Linked DNA regions of Homo sapiens: all the other regions are linked to region 1. Evidence: fine-mapped expression QTL. A gene starts in region 1. Each other region holds a variant in brackets. All regions are shown on one strand. Distances are between the middles of the regions.

Region 1 (8,186 bases):
GCTGAGATCGCACCACTGCACTCCAGCCTGGGTGACAGAGCTATCTGTCTAGAAAAGAAAAGAAAAAGGTTACTAGGTTTTTCAGCGAGTAACAATAATGCAGAGGTTTGATCCCAAGTCTCCAAGCACAGACACATGCTGCTTCCCCAACCTATTTAATAAAATTCTGGGGAAATGAAATAAGAGAATTGTCCAAGTGTTCTATTATAAACAGTCTTACAAGTTTAAGGTATTATTAAGACTAAGCTTTAAATCATGTAGCGAGATGTCAACATATTTTTTCCACTCATTAATATTTCTATCAGAGCAAAAGTCCCATAAACCACTGATCCTATCCAGCATGTCACAGTACAATCAGTTGAATAAATGGGCAGATTACTGCCACTTTAGAAATGATCCATGAACTTAATTAGATATACTAAACAAATGGATATATTTACACTGCACAGGCCACACTTTGAGGATCTTAGAAGAAAGAACTATAATTAGGCAAGACATATAGTTGTACTAGTAAAAGAATCCTACTCTCAGAGTCCAATCCTTCATTCAAACCAAACAAATCATTCTCAGTTGAAAATATGCATCAAAATCATTGTAAGATACCCTGTACTTCTACAACAAAGCCACAATATTCCCCTAATAAAATATAGGAGTGAATGATGGATAAGGGGAGGAGAAAAGGAATCCCTGCAGCCTCTTCACACAACACCACTTTGATCAAGTTTAAGAATCAACTCCTGGCAATAGCACTTTAGAGATAACAATATTCTTAATGAAACACTTTCCCATCACAACAGATTATTAAAGCAATCCATTATTCTTCTCTCCACCTATTAAAAAAGTCTGATTTAGTGAAAAAGACAATCCTCAAAAATCCAGGACTTACCATAGGCTGCTCTGTGTTATAGTTACTGCCCCCACTGAGAGTCCCCTAGAGGCCAGAAGGATCTCATTCACTACTGTGTTCCCTCACAGTGCTTGGCACATAGCTGGGCTCAGAAAATGTATGTTGAACTTATTCTACAATGTAACATATTTCAAAAACCAATTTCAACTCTTAAAATAATAATCCCTATGAAAAAGGAAAACATATGTATTTCATATTTCTTTCATTTTCCTGAAGTGAGGCTCCTTCACACTCATTTGGAATATGTTTGTTTTCATTTCAATTGTTTACATGCTCACTACATGTAAACATTATTATGGTGGCATCATTCAGAGAACATGAATCTTTTTAAGATTTAAAGGAGATTACATCCAGTCAAAAGATGGATTACACTTTGATATATCACAGATTTGAAAAAACATACATTGAATAACCACATACAACATCAATAAAAAAGTCCTGCCTGGGCGCGGTGGCTCATGCCTGTAATCCCAGCACTTTGGGAGGCCGAGGCAGGCAGATCACCTGAGGTCAGGAGTTCAAGACCAGCCCGGCCAACATGGCAAAACCCCGTCTCTACTAAAAGTACAAAAATTAGCCGGGCATGGTGACAGGTGCCTGTAATCCCAGCTACTCAGGAGGCTGAGGCAGGAGAATCGCTTGAACCCGGGAAACGGAGTTTGCAGTCCGCCGAGTTCGCATCCCTGCACTCCAGCCCGGGCAACAGAGTGAGACTCCGCCTCAAAAAAAAAAAAAAAAAAAAAAAAAAACAGTCCTGAAACCATCAATCCCTTGGGGATCATTTTAGTTTTATTTAAAATGGTCTAAGAGAATGTCCCATCAATATCTTGGTTAACTTCAATAAGAGCTTCAATGAGTAGAATTTGTTTTCAGCCCAGGACATTTGAGCATCTGTGGACAATATTTCATCCCACTTTGGGACAAGGAAAATAGAAAATAATAGCCCAAGGACAGCCATTACACAATTAAAATAAACAAGCATTTGTTTGCAAAGCAGGGCATTTAAATTCAGTTTGATTTCATTACTGTTCAAACGACCCCATATGAATCTTTCCTCTGGAATCCTCAGTTGTCCAGTATTAAAGTTACCAGTGTAGAACCAACCACTGAGGACTTCAATTATAAATATCTCTGTAAACAATTCTCCGAACCTGGTTCCCTGCAGAAGTAAGCAAATAGCTATAATAATACTCCTAGTCCAACATGGATATATTAAATGACTGTTTTGCTATTGAAATCGCAAATGCCAACAGCAGTTCCAAGAGAGGACTCTAACTTGCCAAACCTTTTATAAAAGACAGTTGCAAGCCCCGATACAAAGTTTAGAGGAATTTCCTTGTCCCTACATGTAAAGGTTTATGAAATCTGTACACTCAAGCAAAAGGACAAACAAGATCAAAGCCAACACATGAAATAAATTTCATTGTGCAAACAGTAAAAGCTGTGTAAAAGAGCTCTAGATCCCAGGTTAAAAACTGCAGGAGAAAGGTAACATTAACCCTAGCAGACGGCTGAGTTAAGATGTGGCAGAGCTTTACAGAATTGCAAATAGCATCAGCATTGCAAGAATAACAATTGGAATAAATACCGTCTGCATGCTGCAAAAACAATCAACGCACATGCTCCTTCACCTCTCCCCCTCATCCAGCTGGGCAGTGAAAGCAGCTGCCTCTCCCAGCCCTCCTCCCAAGCCGTTCTTCGCCCCACCCGCTCCCCTCTCTTCTCCACCCCTCCCCTCCTCCTTCCCTCCCCCTCCCCGCCCCCAGCTGCCGTATTCAGCAGTCTAGAGAGATTAGGAGGAGCTCGCTACAGTCTCTGGGCCTCAGGACTGATCTAACGTTTCGTAGCTCCCTGGATGAGAGAAATTAGAGACTCGACACCCAGGTGGTATTAGAAGCCTTCGCCTCCAGCCCGGCTCTCTCGCAAACCGGGGCTGGGGGACCACGGGGGGGCCTCGGGCCGGGCGACTGGGAGGCTCCGGAGGCCGCGCGGGGCTCAGCGCTGCACTCCCCTCGGGCAGCGCTACCTGAGCTGTCCATGGTGCTGGCGCGGTCCGGAGGCTGTCGGGCGGGACTCCGCGCCGCTGCCCCGGCGTTCACTCTCTGCTTGCCGCCAACCCCGCCGCTTCCCGCACTTAAGTCCCCGTTACTGTCCACCAGCTGCAAAGATTCATAACCATCGTTGCTGGTCTTTTTCCGGTAGCTCCCGAGGAGGCTCATGGGCAAGCCCGGAGAAAAGAGAAAATAATCAACCTGGGAAGCGAAAAGGGAGATGGAAGGTGGAAAGGGCTGAAGAAGGAATTAAAAAAAAAAAAAAATTAAGTGCCCGACATGACGCAAAGAGGAGGGAAAAGAAGGAGCGGCCACCGGAGAGAAGCTTCGCCGGGCGAGGCGAAGCCGCCGCCCTGGGCTGAGCTCGGCTCGGGGCGCCGGGAGGAGGGAGGGAGGGAAGGAGACGCGGCCGGGCGGGGGCGCGCGTCCTCTGGGCCAACGCCGCGGAGCCGCCCGGCCCTGCCGAGCTCCGGGCCCCAGGCCAGCACCTCCTGGCTGAGGAGTGCCCGGAAGCAATCCTATAGGTGTCGCCGCGTCGCCCCGCCGCGCAGCAGGGCAGCGCCAAAGCCGCTGGCCCGCGGGGAGGGAAGGAAAGGGAGGTAGGAAGGGAGGGGAGGTTCGTGAGGAGGGGGGTTGAAGGGAAACGGGGCGGGGTGGTCGGGGGAGGGGACTACTACGACGTGGGTTGGGAGGGTGTGTTCGCACGCGTGTGACAGAGAAGAAAGGGGCGAGGTATCTCGGCCTGCGAAGCTTTGAGGACCAGGGGTCTTGTGGTAAAATCCAGACACACCCATTTCATGCAACTTAGCCTATTTTCACCGGAAGATTCCGCCAAAGCCACCAGGACGGTAACCGTCCTAGAGAACTGACTTGTAACTCAATTCAACAGAAAAAGAATGCATGTTAAGTGCCAGAATATATCTATGCTAGGATATAAAGGAAGAGCAATATTTTGCACATTCTCCAGAATAGGGATGATCCCTAAGGGAGATATCAAAGAGTTGGGTATTCTAATACTAGGAGGCAGCGTCCGTTCTGCCTAGAGAGCAGATGTGACTGTTTAGAACTCTTTGTTGAGCGAATAAACTGGGGAGAAGGGCAAGGTTAAGTCCGACGCATTTTCAGATCCGCCACCATTTACCTTAGGACCTGGAGAAAAGACTGTTTCAGTTAGCTAGCTTGAAGGCCTGCTTGGGAAGCAAGATAGACAAGGATTTTTTTTCCCCATCCTCTAGCCTCACGCCTTATTTTTCTTTCACAATTCTGGCCAAAGAAAGCAGTAACTCATAATCAGAAGAGAATTTATCATGAAGTTAATTAAGCTGTGTACCTAATTTTGTATCTGTCATCGTGTATTCTTAAAAGAAGACTCCGACATTGTATAAGTTCTGGATCTGAACAAAACCTGGATAAACTCTGGTAAGTCTTAAAATGTAATTATCGAATGTTTATTTTCACCTAAAATAATAAGATTTCAGAAGGATTGCTCATTCTCATCATCTTAGGTCAAGATCAAGTAAGTCTTGGTTAAAAATTATCATTTTCTCTACTAAAACTTGGAGGGACTAAGTGAGGCGCCCGTCAAGAGTCATTTGACAGAGTTTCCTCACCAAAACAGGAAAAAAGTACGTGCATGTAAAATGTACTTGAGCCCATACACAAAGCCAGCTTTGCTTTCTTCTCATCTTACATGGTTTTCTCTTGCTGTCCTTATATCAATCACCTAAGGACACAAAATCAAACAATAGCATCTAAGAGACTTCAGTCCAGATGATTTGGGTCTCAGAAAGTTTCCGGGAAGCTCTAGCTCTACACAGTTCTACATAAAATAAATTGGACTAAGAGACATTTTCCTGTACAAGGATCACCCAAACACAGATTCTTGTAGGAAGAGCATCAACCAGAAGAAGTCCAAAGAAATGTTTTCTAAATCCTTCCAGTCCTTCTGGGGAAACCTAAACTTCCTGGCCAGTTGCTTTCCCAACTGCATTCTTTGATGAGGTATGGTGTGACCTGAATTGCAAATCAGAGTTAATGCTCATTTATAACAAGATCAAACAATCTGAATGGTGGCAGGAAAAACTGCAATAAAAATTTTAAAACAAATTTTTATACTTTCAATTTTCCAAATCTGTCAGATTGAATTATTTTAGTTACTTGACTAAAGTAATAATTCTGTGAAGTCTAGTAAATCTTTTCCCATAACATCTTAAATAATCTTTCTCTGTACTTTTTCTTTTAATTCATTACAGACACACAGGGACAGTAAATACCTAGTGTTCATCATGTGCCCTGACAAATGCTGGACTATAATCATTGGATTAATAGAATTTAGAACCAGCCTCAGTGACAGACTGAGACCCTGTCTCAAAAAATAAATAAATAAATACAGGATCATTTTTGAAAAGTGAAAATTATTATTTTCAAAAAGAGCACTTTCAGTTATTTTTGCTCAACTTGCAGACATATTGCTGAAAGAAATTATAGATGAGACATATGCCTTTGTATTTTTCAATATCTATCTCTGGAGTTTGCAAGTGTAAAGAAAAATCTGAATGGGCTATAAGAATTTTATCTTTATACTTAATATAAATAAAGTCAATCAGGATAACTATTAATAATCCTATAAAATTGAAGATATAAGAAGCATATTAAGGCAGGAAAATACAATAACTAGGTTAATTTACAACAGCCTAAAAACTAGGGCTTGGGCCTAAATTTGGATATGCACCAATTTCAACATTAAAATTTTCTTTACTGTGCTAAAGATCAAATTCATATACTTATCAATGAATATCTCACTGTTCTACTCTATAAAACAAGCATAATATGAGTACCATCATTATATAGAAGAATTAGATTAGTACCTAACATATATATATATATATATATATAGAGAGAGAGAGAGAGAGAGAGAGAGAGAGAGAGAGAGAGAGAGAGAAACAGATTGAGAGAGAGAGTAGTACTTAACAATTGTTCTCTATTACCATTATTGGTCTGTCTTGGGTGCAGCTTTAAGCTCAGCGCCTGGCAGTCTTAGTTTTTCAAATGGGAAAAGCTCAATAAAGGCTAAATATTATTTTTTCCAGGGATATCCTAATGGAAAATTGTCTTTGTAACTTTGAATGAGAATTTGGGCTTAAGGGAGGTGGCACTGGTCAAACACAAGGTGAACATTTACAGCCTAACTCTTGGTTTTCCAAACTCAAGACTACTTCATAACTTATCTCAAAAATACTACATCATACATGAGACAACGGCAAAGGATAAGATGCCCTCTTCTGGGGACAGCAATCATTCCCTTTGTCTTTTCTCTTGCTGCCTTCAGGTGCTTTATTAACTTGATGAAGATTAGTGACACTGAGGAATACTGAGGAACCAGGCTCTATTCCACCCCATCCCCTTCATACACACCTCATTCCAAATGCTATCCTGTCACAGCAGATGCCACATCACTTTTGGGGTGGGCTAAGAGATCAAGGTATGTATGCCATGACCTATGTAGGATTTTGATCTGTGATTTTCATTTCCAGAGAATATAATACATTGATTAAAATTGAAGTTGCCAGCCAGGTGTGGTGGCTCACACCTGTGGTCCTGGCACTTTGGGAGGCTGAGGTGGGCGGATCACGAGGTCAGGAGATTGAGACCATCCTGGCTAACACGGTGAAACCCTGTATCTACTAAAAATCCAAAAAAATAACCAGGCGTGGTGGCAGGCACCTGTAGTCCCAGCTACTCAGGAGGCTGAGGCAGGAGAATCGCTTGAACCCAGGAGGTGGAGCTTGCAGTGAGCCAACAAAGCGAGACTCTGTCTCAAAAAAAAAAAAAAAAAAATTGAAGTTGCCTATGATTGATTCTTAGTTCCAATGACTCCTGGCTCTATGACTTTGGGCAAGTTACTTAACCTCTCTGCCTCATTTTTCTCCTCTGTAAAGTGAGGATTATAGTAATGCCATCATAATAAGGTTATAGTAAGAAGTAAATTAGTTCCTAACATATAATAAGTGCTTAACATATGCTATCTATTATTACTATCATTCCACTTCTTTTTAAAATGTCACTTTTTCAAAAATGCAACTTCCCATCTGTAAAATTAAGTTTAAATCTGCCCAGCTTACCTAAGAGATTTGTTATCATTATGACTATGATAACATAAAAGCAGTTTGTCAAATGTGAACTGATTGTTTTGCCCTGAGTTTTTAAATATTCACGTGTATGTATTTCCTATTGGATTTGGACTCTTTGAGGGCAAAAATCCATGTTTTGTTCATGTTTGTGTCCCCCATGACACTCCAAAGAGCACCTCGCTCTCATTAGATATTGAGTAAATATCTACTGAATTAATGAATAAACAAAAATGTCATGGCATTACCTAGTCCAGTGATTTAAACTATATGCTGTAGCCGATGAGTAAATTATAAAGTATTTTCATAAAAATGAAATAGGTTGGAAAACATCAGAGTTTGGAACGCAGTAAGATATTGTTTCTTAAAATATTGTTTTGGGTTTGTGTGATATGTATGAGTGTGTGTATGTTTCTGCTCAGTAATGATATAAATGTATTTCTCACTGTGTGTCCTGATTATAAATGTTTTTGAATGTCTATGTTATGGGACAATCTCTGGTACTAAGAGGTCCTAGTGTTCCCAATTATGAATGTCCTATACACTGTGACATCTGAATTCATTTGGCTAATTGGACCACAAAGAGTTTTGGCTAAGCAGACAGTAAATGAAGCCAGAGCTTCTACTCTGTTCTCTCTGTTACAAAATATATTATGATCAGGTTTCTAAAATGCGTCTCTTCAATTTTCTGTTTTAACAAACATAAATCAATGCACAGTATTGAAACTTACTTTGGCAATGTGCCTGAGGGCCATAATCCAGATTATCTCCTTATTGAATAAGGCCTATAGATATACATAGTGCAAGGCACTTCAACTGGGGAACATCAAGCCATCTCTGACTCCCAGATGTGTTTTGTCGGTCCTGTACTTCTTAAAATGAAAAACATTTTAGTTTAGATGCCTTTACAGAGGGTATATAGGCTCCAGTCTGAGGACCATAGTTCACTACTACTTCCCAATGTAGAATACTCAGCCTCCTCCACTCATTCCTATTACCAGTTAGCCCTTGCAGGCATTTGAGTTTGAGACCTGCAGTGTAGTGGCAAAACCTTAAGGAGAAATACCCCCAAGAGAGATGCCAAAAGACACATCTTTAGGC
Region 2 (8,186 bases), 31 kb after region 1:
AAAGCGTTATGGAATTAGATAGTAGTGATGACTGTACAACCTTATGAATATACTAAAAACCACTGAGTTGTACACTTTGAAAAGGTGAATTTTATGGTATGTGAATTATATCTCAATTTTAAAAAAGGAAAAAGTCCACTGAGATTTCATTTAAAATTTGAAACTTGAGCCGGGCACAGTGGCTAAGGCTTGTAATCCCGTCACTTTGGGAGGCCAAGGTGGGCACATCACTTGAGGTCAGGAGTTCGAGACCAGCCTGGCCAACATGGTGAAAGCCCGTCTCTACTAAAAATACAAAAATTAGCCAGTGTAATGGCGAGCACCCACCTACCCAGAAGGCTGAGGCACAAGAACTGCTTGAACCCAGGAGGCAGAGGTTGCAGTGAGCCAAGATTACACCACTGCACTCCAGCCTGGGTGATAGAGCATGACCCTGTCTAAAAAATAAAATAAAATTTGAAACGTGAAACTTAATTTTTTTTAGCCATGTAATTTTCCCTTGAGAGGAAATCTACCTAATATGAAAAAACATCTCCACAGAACTCTAACACTCACTCAGAAAAGCCCAGTCTGAAAATCTCTCTAATAAAACCCACTTCTCCCATGTTTACAAATGAAAAAAATTAGACCAAAAAATGAAAAGACTGCCTTAAAGTGAGTCAGTGACTGGACTGTAAGAAGGAAAATTTCTGACCTCCTAACTTCCAGGCCAATGGATTTCTTCATTTCACCTAGTTGCCTCATTACTTTAAAAATCAAAATAACCCTCCTATCCATGGAAATAAGCAAGAAAGGCTGAAAGAGAGAGAGAAGAAGGAATGGAGGGAGGAGTCCTTTTGCACCTTGTCCACTACATCATTTGTTTACCCAGGGATATGAATTATCCTCCTAACACGTAAACATATTGTCCTGGTAAAAGTAGAGTTTGAATGGATCAAGTGTCAGTTTCTAAATCTTCTTTTAATAACTGAAGGCCCAGTTATTATTACAAAATATAACATGGCAGTATTTTACAGACACTAAAAATGTGGAGAGTGTTTGGGCCGTCATATTAAGTGAAAAAAAAATATGAATAATCTGAACTCAGTACATTATATAGATACATAAAGATACACACAGAAAAAGAATCCACTCAATTTAACAGCAATTATCTCTAAGAGACGGGACAATGAATGTTTTCACAGGCTTTCTCTGTGCTTTTCTGAATTTTCATAATTTCCTTTTAAGAGTATATATACATTTTAAATTATGTTACACTGAGTACCTACTATGTGTTAGATATTATGCTAGGTGCCTTTAATATATTATTTCTAATCTCGCAACAACCTTATTAGGTTCTAATCTCACAACAACCTTATTAGGTATTACTATTTTCACTTTGAAAGTGAGGAAACTGAGGCTCAGAGAAGTTAAGGAACCTGTCTACCTTGCTAAGTTTAAAAGAAGCGATCCAAGGGTAGCTTTCTTTTATCTTCCCTGACTCCTTGTCTTCTCTTCTTTTCTCTATGTATTAAGGACATATGCCGTGCCCAAATTTCATCTAATAATTAAAAATACGGGAAGTGACACAAAAGGGAAAACACAGGATGCTCTGGAAACTTGTTATAGGCAGCGAGTGGGAAGGAGACCTAGAGTCAGAGGAAGCTACTACTGGAAAGAGGAGCAGAACTGAGCCAGGCAAATAGGAGAGAAAATGTATTTCAGGCAGAAGAAACAGCACTCTGGAAACCCAACATCTAGCCTTTGAGAATGTAAAATGAAGCCAGGATGACACTACCAATTCCAAGCTGTGTGTGTGTGCATGCATGTGCATGTATGTGTATATATATTAGATGTATATTTTAACATTCTGACTTAACATTAATATTAACATATTAATATTTATTTATTGAAATATTTAACGTGTATTTTAATATTAAATTCTGGATTTCCAAACCAGATCAGAAATAGTCTTCACTCTGTTTTCAGTAGGTCAGATCCCACAGGGCAAGAGGGGGAGGAGACAGCTCCCACTGTTTCTTGGCCTTACCTCCACCCCCATCCCAATTAAGGCACGTCCCCTTCCCTGCAGCTACCTCTCTAAAGAGCCCTCTCCTTTTAACACTGGTTCCCAGATTTTCCCATTTATCTCACAGCAGCAGGAGTCACAGCTGGGTTCAATCTCTGCACGCCACCATCACCGCCCCTCCCCCAAAGTTGTAGAAATGTTATTCTAAATTTAAACCACACAGCACCAAACTAAAAATGGCTTTAAAAGAGGATCAAACATACCTTGTGCTGGGCTCTTGTTAGATTTCACAGGCACGAATTTCCCTTTTTCTCAGCATATGCAGTCAAATGATTCTTAGGTGATGAAACAAGTATCTCCAGGTTTGCAGGAAATAAAAGTGTCTGTTTTTAAACTGCCATGGGGAAGGGGATGGAGGAGGGCAGAAAGAGTAGGGAGTGAAGTGCTGACTCGCAGGATACATCTGGGATTCTGAGAATGTCGCCCAGCTCCAATGTTAGCGCATGCCAGATTCTTCCCCACCCCTTTCCTGATCAATGAGTTAGGAAAGTCAGATGAACTAGGAGTCAGAAGGCCTGAGTACAAGTCCTGGTTATGAGACATTCCCCCAGTCCCCAGGTAATTTTTCCTTCCCAAGCTTCAATTCCCTCGTCCATAACATGAAGAGGCTGAACTTGATCAGAGGTTCTCAAGCTTTCTTTCTCTTTGGCACTTTCTTTGTTACTCTATCAGTAAAAAGTTCATTTTCTTTATTAAAGTATAACAGACATACTGAAACGTGAACAAACCATGTGCTGAGCTCCAGGAATTTTCACAAACTGGTTTAAAAACCAGCAGCCAGATTAAGTAACAGACTATTTCTGGCATCCCAAAGCCCTCTTACTTAGTACATTTTCAAGTACTAGAGTCAGAGTTGGGGAACATATCTGAAAAGACTGAAAAGTAAGTGTCAGTTTGTTTGTCTGATTTTAAAAGAAAATTTGGAGAAATGTGAAAAACATTTCCACAATTCCACCAATCACTCTGTTGCCTTTCAGAACTATGTCACATGAATTGACCTATTTAATTTCCCTGATCATTTACTAGAATTGCCATAATATTGATTTGAAAAAGGAGACCTGAGCACATAAGTGATCAAAAACATATGAGATGAATGAGTAAATGAACGGAGCTTGCATTTGAGAGGCTGAACACATTGGCAGTGACATGAAGCACATGAGAATGACAGCACTAAACGCAGCGCGCAACCTGGGAAAGAGGCTGAAAAAATACCTACTCAGCCACGGTAAAGGGTTTAGACTGTAACCAAGTACCCACCTTTTTCTAAGAGAAAGAATTACTTTTTTAAAAAATACTTTTTTCTTCTTTTCTGTTTCCTCCTTTTCCCTTGTTCCCCACTTCCTACTTAGCTCTTTAGAAATGCAATTATAACATTTACCTTTCCTTCACCAGACACTCCCTGTAGGGCAAGCTTATCTGTGTGCTTACTTGGAAGCTCTTGCTTACTTAGAAGCTCCAGAGCCAGACGTCTCTTCGACCAGGAGACTGCCTCGAGAGA[T/C]AACAAATTATAACCTAAAGTATGCCCATGATGAAACTCACTCCCACTTGGAGAGTATCTCAAGACTCTGGCCACCTTACCACCTAGTTCTGCCCGCGAGGGCACCAGCTCAACCACCTGGTAGATAAAGCACCAAAGCAAGTCATTGAGACCCCCACTGGCTCACCCCCTCCCCTGCATGCCATTCATGTCAAGTCCCCCTTTGAAAACCCTTGCTTTTTTGCCCCAAAAGTGAAGCAGTACCCTTAAAGGCAGAAGCCTGTACTTCTCCCCCTCAACAAAGCTTTGGAATAAAAGTTACAAGATCAAGTTTTCTAAAACTTTTTGAAACTCAATCATTCAAATTATTTTGTACATTTTAGGATCATGTTGAATTGGGAGGTGAGAGTCGACAATTACAAATCATAAAATCACAAAAGTATTAAAACATTTGAATGGAGAACCAGACTCAGAAAAATTATAGTCTTTTAGTACACATATTCTCTGGAACAAAGCAACATATATTTGTAAGAATTTCAGAGTACATATGAAAAAAGGTACTGACAAGCTTTTAATAAGGCAAGAAAGAGTAACTAAAAATCAACATATATCCTTTATTAAATTTACATGTTTAAAATGACATTGTTACCTTGGTTTTTGGCCTGTGATTTTTATTTTTTAACATAATCCACTTAAAACAAACAAAAAAAAACAGACGTGTTTAACTTCCAGCTTTAATAGAGTAGGTTGTAGCAGACTGGTTCTGATGAGGGAAATTAGAAAAGCCAGATAAAATTTTTAAACATCTGTGTGAAGTAATAGGAAAGCTACTAATCAGCCACGATTTGAGGAACCAGATCTTGGAGAGAGGGGAGGCTCACTGAGGTGAGCCTGACTTTCTGCAAGCCCATTTTCCTATTTAGGGTATATGCCAATTCTTAGCATGGGGTAAGAAGCTGAAAAGCCAGGCAAGGGGCAGCTGTTAAGACACAGAGAAGCCTGCAGAATTTTAGACAGTTTCAAGGGCTGCAGAGACAAAAAGTGGAGTTTAGGACTGAAAAGGCATATCCTAGAGTAACTCACAGCCTGACAGGAGTTTTCTCCTTCAGATATTCCTGACTCAGCTGCCCAGAGCAGAGGCTAAGAAGCCAACGAGAAAGCAAATGAAAAGCACAATGAACATTTTGCTGAGTAGAGTTTTCAGCAAGTTCACAGTATTAGAGAGACAAAAATTAGAGTTTAGGGTCTGTCAAGGGGAAGGGGTGGTGAGAAACATCTCAGACTCTCAGTCAGTTTCCCTAGGGGCCTGGGATTAGGAGAACCAGAAGTAGACTAAACCTTAAAAGTCTGCAAAACAGCCTTAATTAGACTGAGTGCCTGATTGAAGTGATCTCTGTTCTACTTCTGACAAAGAGTAGGAAAAATACTCTCAACAGGTAGATGACATCATCCAGAGCATCTTCATACACAATACTGGACATATAATAAAAAATTGCCAGGCATATGAAGAAAGACAACCAAGAAGAAAAACAGAAGAGATAAAAAGACTCACAAGTGGCCCACACATTGAAGTTACTGAGCAAAGTTTTTTAAGATGACTGTGATGTATGTATTTGAGAAAACAGATGACAAGGTGAAGAATCTCTTTTGGTAAAGAATCTAATAGAGGCTGGGCGCGGTGGCCCACGCCTATAATCCCAGCACTTTGGGAGGTCAAGGTGAGCGGATCACTTCAGGCCAGGAGTTCAAGACCAGCCTGGCCAACATGGCGAAACCCCATCTCTACTAAAAATACAAAAATTAGCCAGGCATAGTGGTACATGCCTGTAATCCCAGCTACTCAGGAGGCTGAAGATCGCTTGAACCCAGGAGGTGAAAGCTGCAGTGAGCCAGGATCGCACTGCAGCCTGGGCAACAGAGGGAGACTCTGTCTCAAAAAAAAAAAAAAAGAATCTAATAGTAACTCTAGAACTGAAAAATACAAAACAAAATTAAGAAATTAATGGTTCTGTAACAACAAGTTAAACATAGCAGAGAGAACCAGTAAGCTCTAAGATAGGCCAGCAAAAAAATAACAAAACTAAAAAAGAAAGAAAAGGGCTAAGTATACAGAAAATGAAGGAATATATGGGACAGGGTAAAAAGTTCTAACATAAAGGTACCCGGAGTCCCAGAAAGAGAGAAAGGAACAAAACACTGTTTGGAGAGATAATGGCAGGGAATTATGAGAATTACAAAAAACCTCAAGCCGCACAGATTCAAGAAGGACTGAAAACCCCAAGCAGGATAAATACAAAGAAAACCACACCTGGGACAAGTGTTGAAAACCAAATCAATTGAGAAAAGTCTTAACAACAGCCGAAGAAAAAAGATGCAACACCAAATAACAACATAAGACTGACTGACAGCCTGCTTTTCCAAGAAAGGATGAAAACCAGAAGACAATGGGATAACATGTTTTAAAGTGCTGGGGGAACACCTGCTTCCCCATAATTCTATACACCTAGTAAAATTGTCCTTCAAAAGCAAAGACAAAATCAACTCATTTCCAGATCATAAAAACTGAGAATATTTGTTTCTAGCATATATGCACTACAAGAAATCCTAAAGGGAGTTTTTTTCATGCAAAAGGAAAAGATCCCAGAGGGAATACACAAAAAATCCGAAAGAAATGAAAAGCAATGAATAGGGTAAATATGTGGGTAAATTTAAATGAATATTTATTCCATAAAACAATCATTACAGTGTCCTATGGGGCTTTAATAAATGTATAATTAAAACAAAATACAATAATAATACAAAAGGCAGAAAGTGAGGTGAGGGAGAAGATAGGGTAAATGGAGTTAAAGTCTTCTAAGCGCCTAACATTGTCTGAAACATGATTAAATATAAGAAGCACTGGGGTAATCACTTGCACACGCACGCAGGCACACACACGCACATACACACAAAGAAAAGTAAAATGAAAACAAATGTGTAAAGAATATGTTGGAAAGTTAAAAATAATGCTTGATTAATCCAAAAGAAAGTGGTATATAAAACAGATGGGACACAAATAAGAAACAAGGAGTAACATGGTAGCTATAGCACTTAACACATCAATAATTATATTAAATGGTTTAAATATTCAAACTAAAGACCATATTGTCAGACTAGATTTTTAAAAATTCACTTATGGCTGCTTCTAAAAGATACAGATTACATATATGGGTATAGAAAAAAGTAAAGTATAGGCTGGGCACAGTGGCTCATGCCTGTAATCCCAGCACTTTGGGAGGCCAAGGTGAGTGGATCACCTGAGGTCAGGAGTTCGAGACCAGCCTGGCCAACATGGCAAAACCCTGTCTCTACTAAAAATATAAAAATTAGCTGAGTGTGGTGGCACACGCCTGTAGTCCCAGCTACTTGGGAGGCTGAGGCAGGAGAATCGCTTGAACCCAGGAGGCGGAGGATGCAGTGAGCCAAGATCACACCACTGCACTCCAGCCTGGATGACAGAGCAAGACTCCATCTCAAAAAAATATATAATAATAATAAAAAAGAAAAAGTATACAAATGGGAAAAGATCTACCATGTATCTATTAACACAAAGAAAGTTGGTATAGCTACATTAATATCAAAAAGGTAGATTATAAGGGAGTATTGCTCAAGATAAGGAAAGACATTTCATAATGAAGATATAACAACTATAACTGTATATGGTATGCACCTAATAACAGAGCCACAAAGTAAAGCAAAAATTGGCAAATATAAAAGGAAAAATAGACAAATCTAAAATTATAATGGAAGAGTTTGCCCTCTCTTGGGAACCAACAGAATGAGAAAAAAATCAGTGAGGATACAGAAGATCCGCACCTCAGGATTAACAAATTGAAATAATTAACATATATAGAACATGGAACCAAACTATCTTAGTATGCACATTCTTTTAAGTACAACATATAAATATAAAAATTGATCATATGAAGGGTCACAAAGCAAGTCTAAAACATTTCCAAGTCATCCAAAATATATTCTCTGACTACAGTGAAAGCAAGCTAGAAATCAATGGCAAAAAGAGAACTAGAAACTCCCCAACTGTTTAAAAATTAAAAAGTATGTTGTTACACTACCTTATGGGTCAAAAAAATCAAAAAGAAAAGTATAAAATATTTTAAACTAAATAATGAAAATATAACAATACTTGCAGGTGTACACAAAAGCTATGCTTAAAGGATATTATATATATAGCTTAAGGGATTTTTTTTTTCATTGAGACAGAGTCTTGCTGTGTCATCCAGGCTGGAGTGCAGTGGTGTGATCTCGGCTCACTGCAACCTCCGCCTCCCGGGTTCAAGCAATTCTGCCTCAGCCTCCCGAGTAGCTGGGATCACAGGCACATACCACCGTGCTCAACTAATACTTGTAATTTTTTAGTAGAGACGGGGTTTCACCACATTGGCCAAGCTGGTCTCAAACTCCTGACCTTGTGATCCACCTGCCTCGGCCTCCAAAAGTGCTGGGATTACAGGCGTGAGCCACCACGCCTGGCCGGCTTAAAGGATATTAATGTGTAGCCTTAAATGAAAATATTTTTTAAAAGAAAAGCTGAAAATCAAAGATACCTTCTATCTCAAAAAACTAAAAAATAAGTCATAAGTT
Region 3 (8,186 bases), 91 kb before region 1:
CATTTGATTAAAGTTTCTTCCTCCCACTGTAGTGCAAGTTTCAAAGAACAGGAATATCATCAGCTTTGATTCTTTATTACATCCTGAATGCCTACCACATAATAAGTACTCAAAAATACCTGTGAAATGAGGGAATTAATGCTCAAGGGTAGAAAACCATTGACTGGATGAACTGAACTGATACCCCTTCCCACACTCAGCTACATCAACCTCTAAACCTTTTATGAGTGCAAGCTCCAGAGCTAGACTTCTTGGTGTTGAAAGCTTGTGATTTGTGCATGTTACTTAACCTGTTGTGTCCCTGTTTCCTCATCTGTAAAACGAGGATTATAACAGTCACTACTTCAAAAGATTATGAGGAAGATTAAATGAAATGATATATGTAAAACACTTTAAGTAGTGCCTGGCACATAGTAAGGCCCCAATAACTATTAACTGTTATTTTTATTGTTTTCATTATTTGACATTATATATTTGTTAATTTATTATTTGATTCCCCTTCTATAATGTAAGTTTTATTAAGGCAGGAGTTTTGTTTTGTTTGGTTATTTTTTTTACTAAAACAGTCCTAGCACCTAGAAGGCACAAAAGTGCCTTAAATACTTGTTGGATGAATCAATGCATTAAATGCATTAAAAATAAATAATAAATGAGATTTTATTGAAGTAAAATTTCATCTGATATAATATTACTTTAAAATTTGAAATTTTCAGTAAGATACAAAGAAAGGTGGAGAAGAAAATGACTGCATAAAATAATTTTGAGAGTTCTTAAAAGGGAAAAACATCTAAATAGTACAGAATGGAAGATAAAGATGCTGACACTAGTTACAGACAACAACGGTAGCCAGGCTCACATTCCCTCCATCTGGCTCTAAATGCCTCAGTAGGGCTTTCTGAGATCACAGACTATCAATATAGCCAAGATAAACCTTTGTGTCAGGGCTACCCCACCCTTATTTAACAAATCTGCACTGCCCTAGAGGAGGAAGGAAAAAGGAGGAAGAAAATGTTTCAGAACATAGTAGTCCAGTGAACCCCTCCTTGAAAACAGGCTCCTTGGTGAAATCAGTTTGAGAACTCTGGATACTGTGTCCCTCTTAGTGGTAATCAAAATCCACTGAAACCAGTGCTTCCCAATCTCACCTGCTCTCAGAACACTTATCCTGTAACATCTATTAACATATGGTGAAAATATTCTGGAAATACGATACTTGAGTCTATTTTCTGTATAGAATTTTACAAATTGACCGGAGAGCACCACAGTTAATGGAGAGAAGGGGAACGGTGTGAAGATCTCACAGGTAACATCACCGCATCACAGTTAGTGTTCTGCAAGGTTGGCATCATGTGGCACAAATCCATCTGACCAGCCCTGTCTCATACTGTTTCCCTACGCATTACTTTTGCGCAGCCAAACTCTGTTGCCATGAGCCCCTGAAAGCTCTAACTTTATTCATGCTACACATCCAGAATTAGGCACTGGAGAAATGAATCAATAAAGATGATTTCTAACCCCACATCTGATTATCGCTTTCCTTTTTTAAAAAGCCAATCTCAGGTTTCAGAGGATAGCTTAAGAATACACACTATTTGAGGTTCCAGGTGACAATACCAGCTTGCTGTAACACCAAAGACTGAGATTTGAGGCTTTATAGCTATAAATAAATGTTATTTGTATCTTGATCTTCTGAGTTTGTACCTAGTGTCCCAAGGTCGGCAAAAGGATCCAGAGTCTGGGGTTTGCTTTGATGGGTGGGAGTACCATGCGAGGATCCGGTTGGGCTGGTGGCAGCTGACTTGCTTCCCATTCCAAAGCCTCCTGAAAAGGAAATAAGGTCATTGAAAATGAGTTAGTTGTTTGAGGCTGAATTGTGAAATTCAGAATTCCAGAGTTACTGTTTATTTGTCTCCTAGGCAAATTAGGACAGGGTTTGAAAATGTCTAAGAAGTTGCTAGACCCTGTTTCCCTGACCTGGGTGAATGGTGGCCTTGAACAAGGACAGACCACAGAAAAGACAAATGCTGTTTCCAGGCCACAAGTGTGAACTATTATTTCCAGTGTTTGTTTTATTTCCAGGTCCTCATGTCACCTGACTTCACTCTTTCCTATAAGATTCGAAGTTAGGTCTGGATCTGGATTCTGGCTTTGCCAATTCCTGAGTGACCGTGGGAATCTTGCTTAACATCTTTGAGCTTCAGCATTTTACCATTAGTTTTAAAAAAGAGAAATAATATGAAACCAACATCACAGGCAACAAAAGAAAAACAAATGGGACAATTGTCAAGCTAAAAACTGCTGTTCAGGGAAGGTAACAATCAACAGAATAAGAAGGCAACAGGGTAAAAAGACTCTTATCTCTCACCATATAAAAAAATCAGCTCAAAATCCATTAAAGATTTAAATGTAAGACCCAAAACTATGGAATTACCAGAAGAAAACATACAGATGAATACCAGAAGAAAACCAACAGACGTATAAAACCAACAGATGTATAAAAAAATCCTAACAACACTAATCATCATAGAAATGCAAATCAAAACCAAAATGACATATCACCTCACTCCTGTCAGAATTGCTATTAAAAAAAACAAAAAACATGTTGGCAAGGATGTAGAGAAAAAAGGACACAGTTGGTGGGAATGTAAATTAGTACAGCCATTATGGGAAACAATTTGGAGATTCCTTAAAATATTAAAAATAGAACTGCCATATGATTTATCAATCCTGCTACTGGGTATATATCCAAAGGAAATCAAGTCAGTATGTCAAAGAGATATCTGCACTCCCATGCTTATTGCAGCACTATTCACAACAGCCAAGATATGGAATCAACCTAAGTGTCCATTAATGGATGAATGGATAAATAAAATATGGTGTATATACACAATAGAATACTATTGAGCCATAAAAAGGAAGAATTCCTATCATTTGAGATGACATGGATAAACCTAGAGAGCATTATGTTACGTGAAATAAGCCAGGCACAGAAAGACAAATACTGCATGTTCTCATTCACATGTGGAAGCTAAAAAAGTTGGTCTCATAGAAATAAAGAGTAGAATGGTGGTTACCAGGTGCTGGGGTGGTTGGAGGTAGGGCAGGGATGAGGAGGCATTGGTTAAAGGATATATTATTACAGCTAGAAAGGAGGAATAAGTCAAGAGATCCATTGTACAGCATAGTGACTCTAGTTAATGATGATCTACTACATTCTTGAAAAATCCAAAGAGAATGGATGTTAAATGTTCTCACCACAAAAATGATAACCATGTGAGGAAATGCATTTGTTAATTAGCTACATTTAACCATATCACAGTGTAT[G/A]TGTACTTCAAAACATCATATTGTACACGACAAATACATACAATTTTATCTGTCAATTTAAAGAAAAATCTTTTTTTGAGACAGGTTTCTCACTCTGTCACCGAGGCTGGAGTGCAGTGGTGTGATCTCGGCTCACTGCAGCCTCAACCTCCTGGGCCTAAGTAATTCTCCCATCTCAGCCTCCCAAGTAGCTGGGACTACAGGCACACACCACCATACCTGGCTAACTTTTGTATTTTTGTAGAGATGGGGTTTTGCCATGTTGCCCGGACTGGTCATGAACTCCTGGCCTCAAGGGATCCTCCCACATCAGCCTCCCAAAGTGCTGGGATTATAAGCGTGAGCCACCACGCCCCAGCCAAAAAAAATTTTTAAATTAAAAACAGAAGGAAATCCTGTCACATGTTACAACACAGATGAACCTTGAGGATATTATACTAAGTGAAATAAGCCAGCCACAAAAGTCAAATGCTGTATGATTCTACTTATGGGAGGTATATAAAGTAGTCAAACTCATGTAGAAGGGTGGTGGCCAGGGGCTGGTGGAGGCAGAGGTAGGGAGTTATTTAGTGAGTGTAGAGTTTCAGTTATGTGAGAAGGTCAGTGGGGAGGTGGGTTCGTTCTGGGGATCTGTTGCACAACAAAGTGCATGTAGCTGATAATACTGTATTGTATACTTGGAAATTATTGGCAGGGTAAATGTTACGTTGTGGGGAAGGGGTTGCTACAATAAAAAAAGGAAACAGCAACTGCTTCAGAAAGTTGTTGTGATAAGCCCATTGTGTATGTGTTTGTATGTGCACGCGTGCACTTAACTTGCTCAATGTCAGGAGCAGTCACACAAGACAGCTCCATAAATGCCATAGTGGTCATGAGGAGGAGACCTTGTTGATGACAGACAAATCCCACCCTGAAGTAAGTACTTTGTAAAGAAGGAAGAATATTCACATTTGTCAGCATCTACACTGTGCCAGAAATTCTTATATAAGTTTTTTTTATTTAAACTTACACAACTATGTGGGACCAAAATTATTATCCCCATTGTTCAGATAAGAAAACTGAGGCTCAGACTTGCCAAAAAAACCCAAGAGTTTCTAAGTGATAGAGTTTGATATATATTTATATCCGTCTGATTCTATTGTCAAGATAAGACATTCAGCAAATGAAATTTAGAAAAGTTAAATGGTGTATGATAAGTAGCACTATCATGTCATCAAGTGCATTGGGAAAAGCTCTTCTAGAATATGAATCTTTAGGAAAAAGTGACACAAATTACACAGGTAGGCCACAATACTCTGTGAGTACTCACTTCATCTTGGGTAAGGATTATGCTTTTGCAATTATATAAATGTGTACAGAAAATAACCTGCTTTTACCTGGTTTAGCATGCCAGTCCCAACCTCCAGAAACATCTGGCTGAATGTTCACAGCAGGCGTACTAGAAGCTGCAAATGGGGAAAAGAAAAAGAATGAGAACAAGAGAGCTCAGAACCCACTTTTCTGAGTTCACACAGGATAATGCCATTCCATCCCTGAAGCCTGCATGGCCCCAGCAAGATCCCAAGATATCCACTCCTCCTTCTGAGTTCTTGCCACACTCTGCAACATTCAATATGTTCTGCCTTCACCTCTGGTTGTTCACATGAGGCTTGACAGAAACGACATATTATTTGTCTCTGCTCCTTCTTTGTCTCACTTTGGTTTTACCTCCATATCCACACGCTTTGAGTTATCATTGAGCATGTGTCTGTCTCCATTCAATTGTCAGTCCCTCGAAGTCAGGAAAGAACTATCTTATGTGTGTGTGTCCCACCTCTAAATTTAACACAGAGTCAGTGTGCAATAAGAAAAGGGGGAAAACACCTTAAGCTCAGTTTACCTTTGCTAAGCATTAAGTATAGAAGCATAATCCACTCAAAACTGACATTTTGTTTTCTCCTCTGCTGTGACATGAGTTGAGAATAATGAGTCATGCAGAACATGTACTGGGCACTGGCTATACATCATCACTATGCTGGTTGTCAGGGATGTGTCTATGGTACTCAAAATAAACTCATTACAGCTTCAAAATAAATCATTCTGACCCCCCCTCAAAGTTCCAAACATATAATTTAAAAGAAATATTTGGCTAAAAGGAATCAGGTGTACTAGAGGAATACATGTGCGTAGTAAGTTTTTTACACATCTATAAAATCTATATAGGAAACAGGATGCCATGATGAAGAATTTCTTTCTGAGGCACCTCTAGGTTTTGCCCACACAAATCAATTATTAAAATGCAAATACTAAACTGACATTGCAACTGGGATTTAAAACACACACACACGCACACACACACCCCATCACCACCAGAAGGCATCAAGATTAGCATTCCAAACCTTTTATTTCCTTGTTTTGTTTACTTAGTACCAACCAAGTCATCTAGTACCTTCCCATCATTAAGTTAAAAAGGATATGCCATTATCAGCAATAATAATTCTTTCTTTTCTATTTATCCCTTCTATTTTTACACAGTAACCCATTCCACTGAGGTGGAAGTTAGACGGTTTTGCTAGTACGTTCTATCTGATTTCCTTTAAGCTCTGATCCTAGTCTTACATCCAATTAAGACGCAGAAGTAGGTATCAGAACTTCAACCCTGTTGCTAATCAAACCCACAAACCCTTATGACTACCTACCACATGCAAGGCACCACATCAGGGGACAGAGACTGAAAGATGCATTATCTATCCTCAAGAAACTTAAGGTCTGTTAGAGAAACAGGAATATATTTTTTCAAAAAGGTAATTACCTAATATTTTAGTCTCTATTTTGCCTTTTATTATGATTATTTATTTGTTCTTCCAACATCATGTCCCAAGTGATTATTCTCTTCAGAATAGATGTTCAATAAATATTTGTTGAGCCCAAAGGCAGTATTTTTTTTATTTTCATGAGAGATTGGCGACGCCTTGCAGAAACCCGGGGGAAGTACCCTGAGGATGTCTGACCTCCCAAAGCAGACATCTGAGTGTCACCTATATTCTGTCCTATGTGAAGACGGGGAGTTGATTCAGTAACAGTGAAATGATCATTGCTTTCCCAACAAGGAGAGGAGAAAATTCTTTCCACTCGCTAGTACAATACAGACCAAAATGAGAAATGTAACCACAAAACAAAGGAGTACTAACTGGCCTAAACTGGGTTATAAACACCATGTTCTAATCAGCTCATCAGAAACAGAAAACTGGATCCAAAACTGCCAAGCTGCCAAGTATGAACACCCACGTCCATGGGACACAAAGGGTAGTACTCTTATTAAAACAATAATTTCAAAGTATTAAAATCAGGAAAACATATAGCCTTATGACACTATCACTGTGCATCAAAGAAACTTTGATGGGAAAAATGAGTTAATTCATTTTATATTTAATATTGGAAAGATAGATAGCAGCTACCATGTGCCGGTAATTCTTTTAGGCACTATGGATGCATTAATGAACAAAACAAAATTCCCTGCCTTTGTGGAATTCATGTTCTAATAGAGAGAGAGAGATGACAAAAAAATGTAACACATAAGTTAATTACTGCATATACTGGAAGTTACTAAGCACAACAGAAAGGGGAATGTAGAGTAGGGCAGGGAGACGAGTTGCAATTTGAAACGGAGGAATCAGAGTAGACTCCACTGAGAAGGTGACATTTGAGCAAACACTTGAAGGAGGTGAAGGACTTAGCCATGCAGATGCCTGGGGAAGAGTATGAGGCAGAGGAAACAGCCAGTGCAACAGCAAAGAGGCCAGTACAGCTGGAATGCAGAGAGTAAAGTGGGAAAGAATGGGAAATGAGGTCACGGGCACTGAGATGCTAGAGCATACAGAGGCTACACAGGCCATTTCAAGGACTTTGGTTTTCATGCTGAGTAAAATGGGGAGGCATTTTGAGCAGAGCAATGACATGACTTAACATTTTAAATGAGTGAGAAAACCAACTCTACTCTACATTCCTGCATCTTTTCTCCTACAGGTAGTCAACATCCAATCAGGAGACTCTCTCAAGTGAGCATGACTCAGAGGTAAGAGGGGAATTTCTTGTATATTGTCCTGAGGATGCACTTCAAATAGTTTGAGATTAAAGACTAGTTGGAAATGAACCACAAAAGTTGTTCCTGGAATCTTTTTTAGTCAAGTTTCAGTTTCACCAGTGTTGCAAAAGTCATCTTCCTTTTGCATTGGCATGGTTTCCCAAAGTCAACTGATGACTGGACTGCATTCTCCAAGCAAGCTCAGGATGCCTTCAACAATACGTCACCTTCTAGGTTGTGGCCAATAATGTTCAATAGACTTCGACATCAGGAATGAGCTACAACTCTCTGGCTCAAAGTTATTTATCCCTCACTGCAGACCTCCGGTTTTAATCAATGTTACCTAAGTGACACACTTTTATAAATGGATGTGATTATTATTACTCTTTCTATACAACCTAAGTCTCTAACATAGAAATATAATTTGGGCCACATATGTAATTTTATATTTCCTAGCAGTCACATTTTAAAAAGTAAAAAGACACTATTGAAATTATTTTTAATAATATAGTTTATTTAACCCAGTATGTTCAATATATTATGTTAATAAATGATCAATATAAAAATATTGATGAGATGTTTCACATGCCCTTTTTGTACTAAGTTTTGAAATCTGGTATGTATTTTATACTTGGAGTGTATCTCAAATCAGACTAGCCACATGTAGAGTCATCAACAGCCACACGTAACTAGTGGCTATCATATCCCAAACTTTGTTCTTTGGAATACCAATTTTGTGGACTACTAACATATTTTATTTATTTAAGACATATTTTCCCACATTTCAAAGATTTCTCTA

Alleles and levels. Alleles are on the strand shown, and positions count from the first base shown. SD is a standard deviation of normalised expression in the study named. Not every link is listed here.
For the expression in fibroblasts of the gene that starts at base 3,329 in region 1, G is the high allele of the variant in region 3 and A is the other (small effect, 0.17 SD a copy in GTEx).

The links. PIP is the estimated chance that this variant, and not a neighbour inherited with it, causes the effect.
Region 2: its variant is the best candidate, but not a certain one, in a credible set for the expression of DNAJC6 in whole blood (INTERVAL, PIP 0.83).
Region 3: its variant is the best candidate, but not a certain one, in a credible set for the expression of DNAJC6 in fibroblasts (GTEx, PIP 0.51).

What each region holds. Positions count from the first base shown.
Region 1 is chr1:65,304,686-65,312,871 of GRCh38, reverse strand. It overlaps DNAJC6 (DnaJ heat shock protein family (Hsp40) member C6), which reads right to left and starts at 3,329. Exons shown (of 19, transcript NM_001256864.2): 1 at 2,934-3,329. The coding sequence starts at 3,126. DNAJC6-AS1 (DNAJC6 antisense RNA 1) reads left to right here and starts at 3,638. Exons shown (of 3, transcript XR_007066155.1): 1 at 3,638-4,377; 2 at 6,287-6,439. LOC112268227 (a long non-coding RNA gene) reads right to left here and starts at 1,628. Exons shown (of 2, transcript XR_002958317.2): 1 at 1-1,628.
Region 2 is chr1:65,273,208-65,281,393 of GRCh38, reverse strand. DNAJC6-AS1 (DNAJC6 antisense RNA 1) reads left to right here. Exons shown (of 3, transcript XR_007066155.1): 3 at 3,095-3,169. It also overlaps a transcript of DNAJC6 not described here. Among named protein-coding and RNA genes, the nearest start is that of DNAJC6-AS1, 32 kb to the left of the region's middle. The variant T/C (reference allele first, on the strand shown) is at 3,567.
Region 3 is chr1:65,395,396-65,403,581 of GRCh38, reverse strand. DNAJC6 (DnaJ heat shock protein family (Hsp40) member C6) reads right to left here. Exons shown (of 19, transcript NM_001256864.2): 14 at 4,701-4,769; 15 at 1,702-1,821. Among named protein-coding and RNA genes, the nearest start is that of LEPR, 21 kb to the left of the region's middle. The variant G/A (reference allele first, on the strand shown) is at 3,325.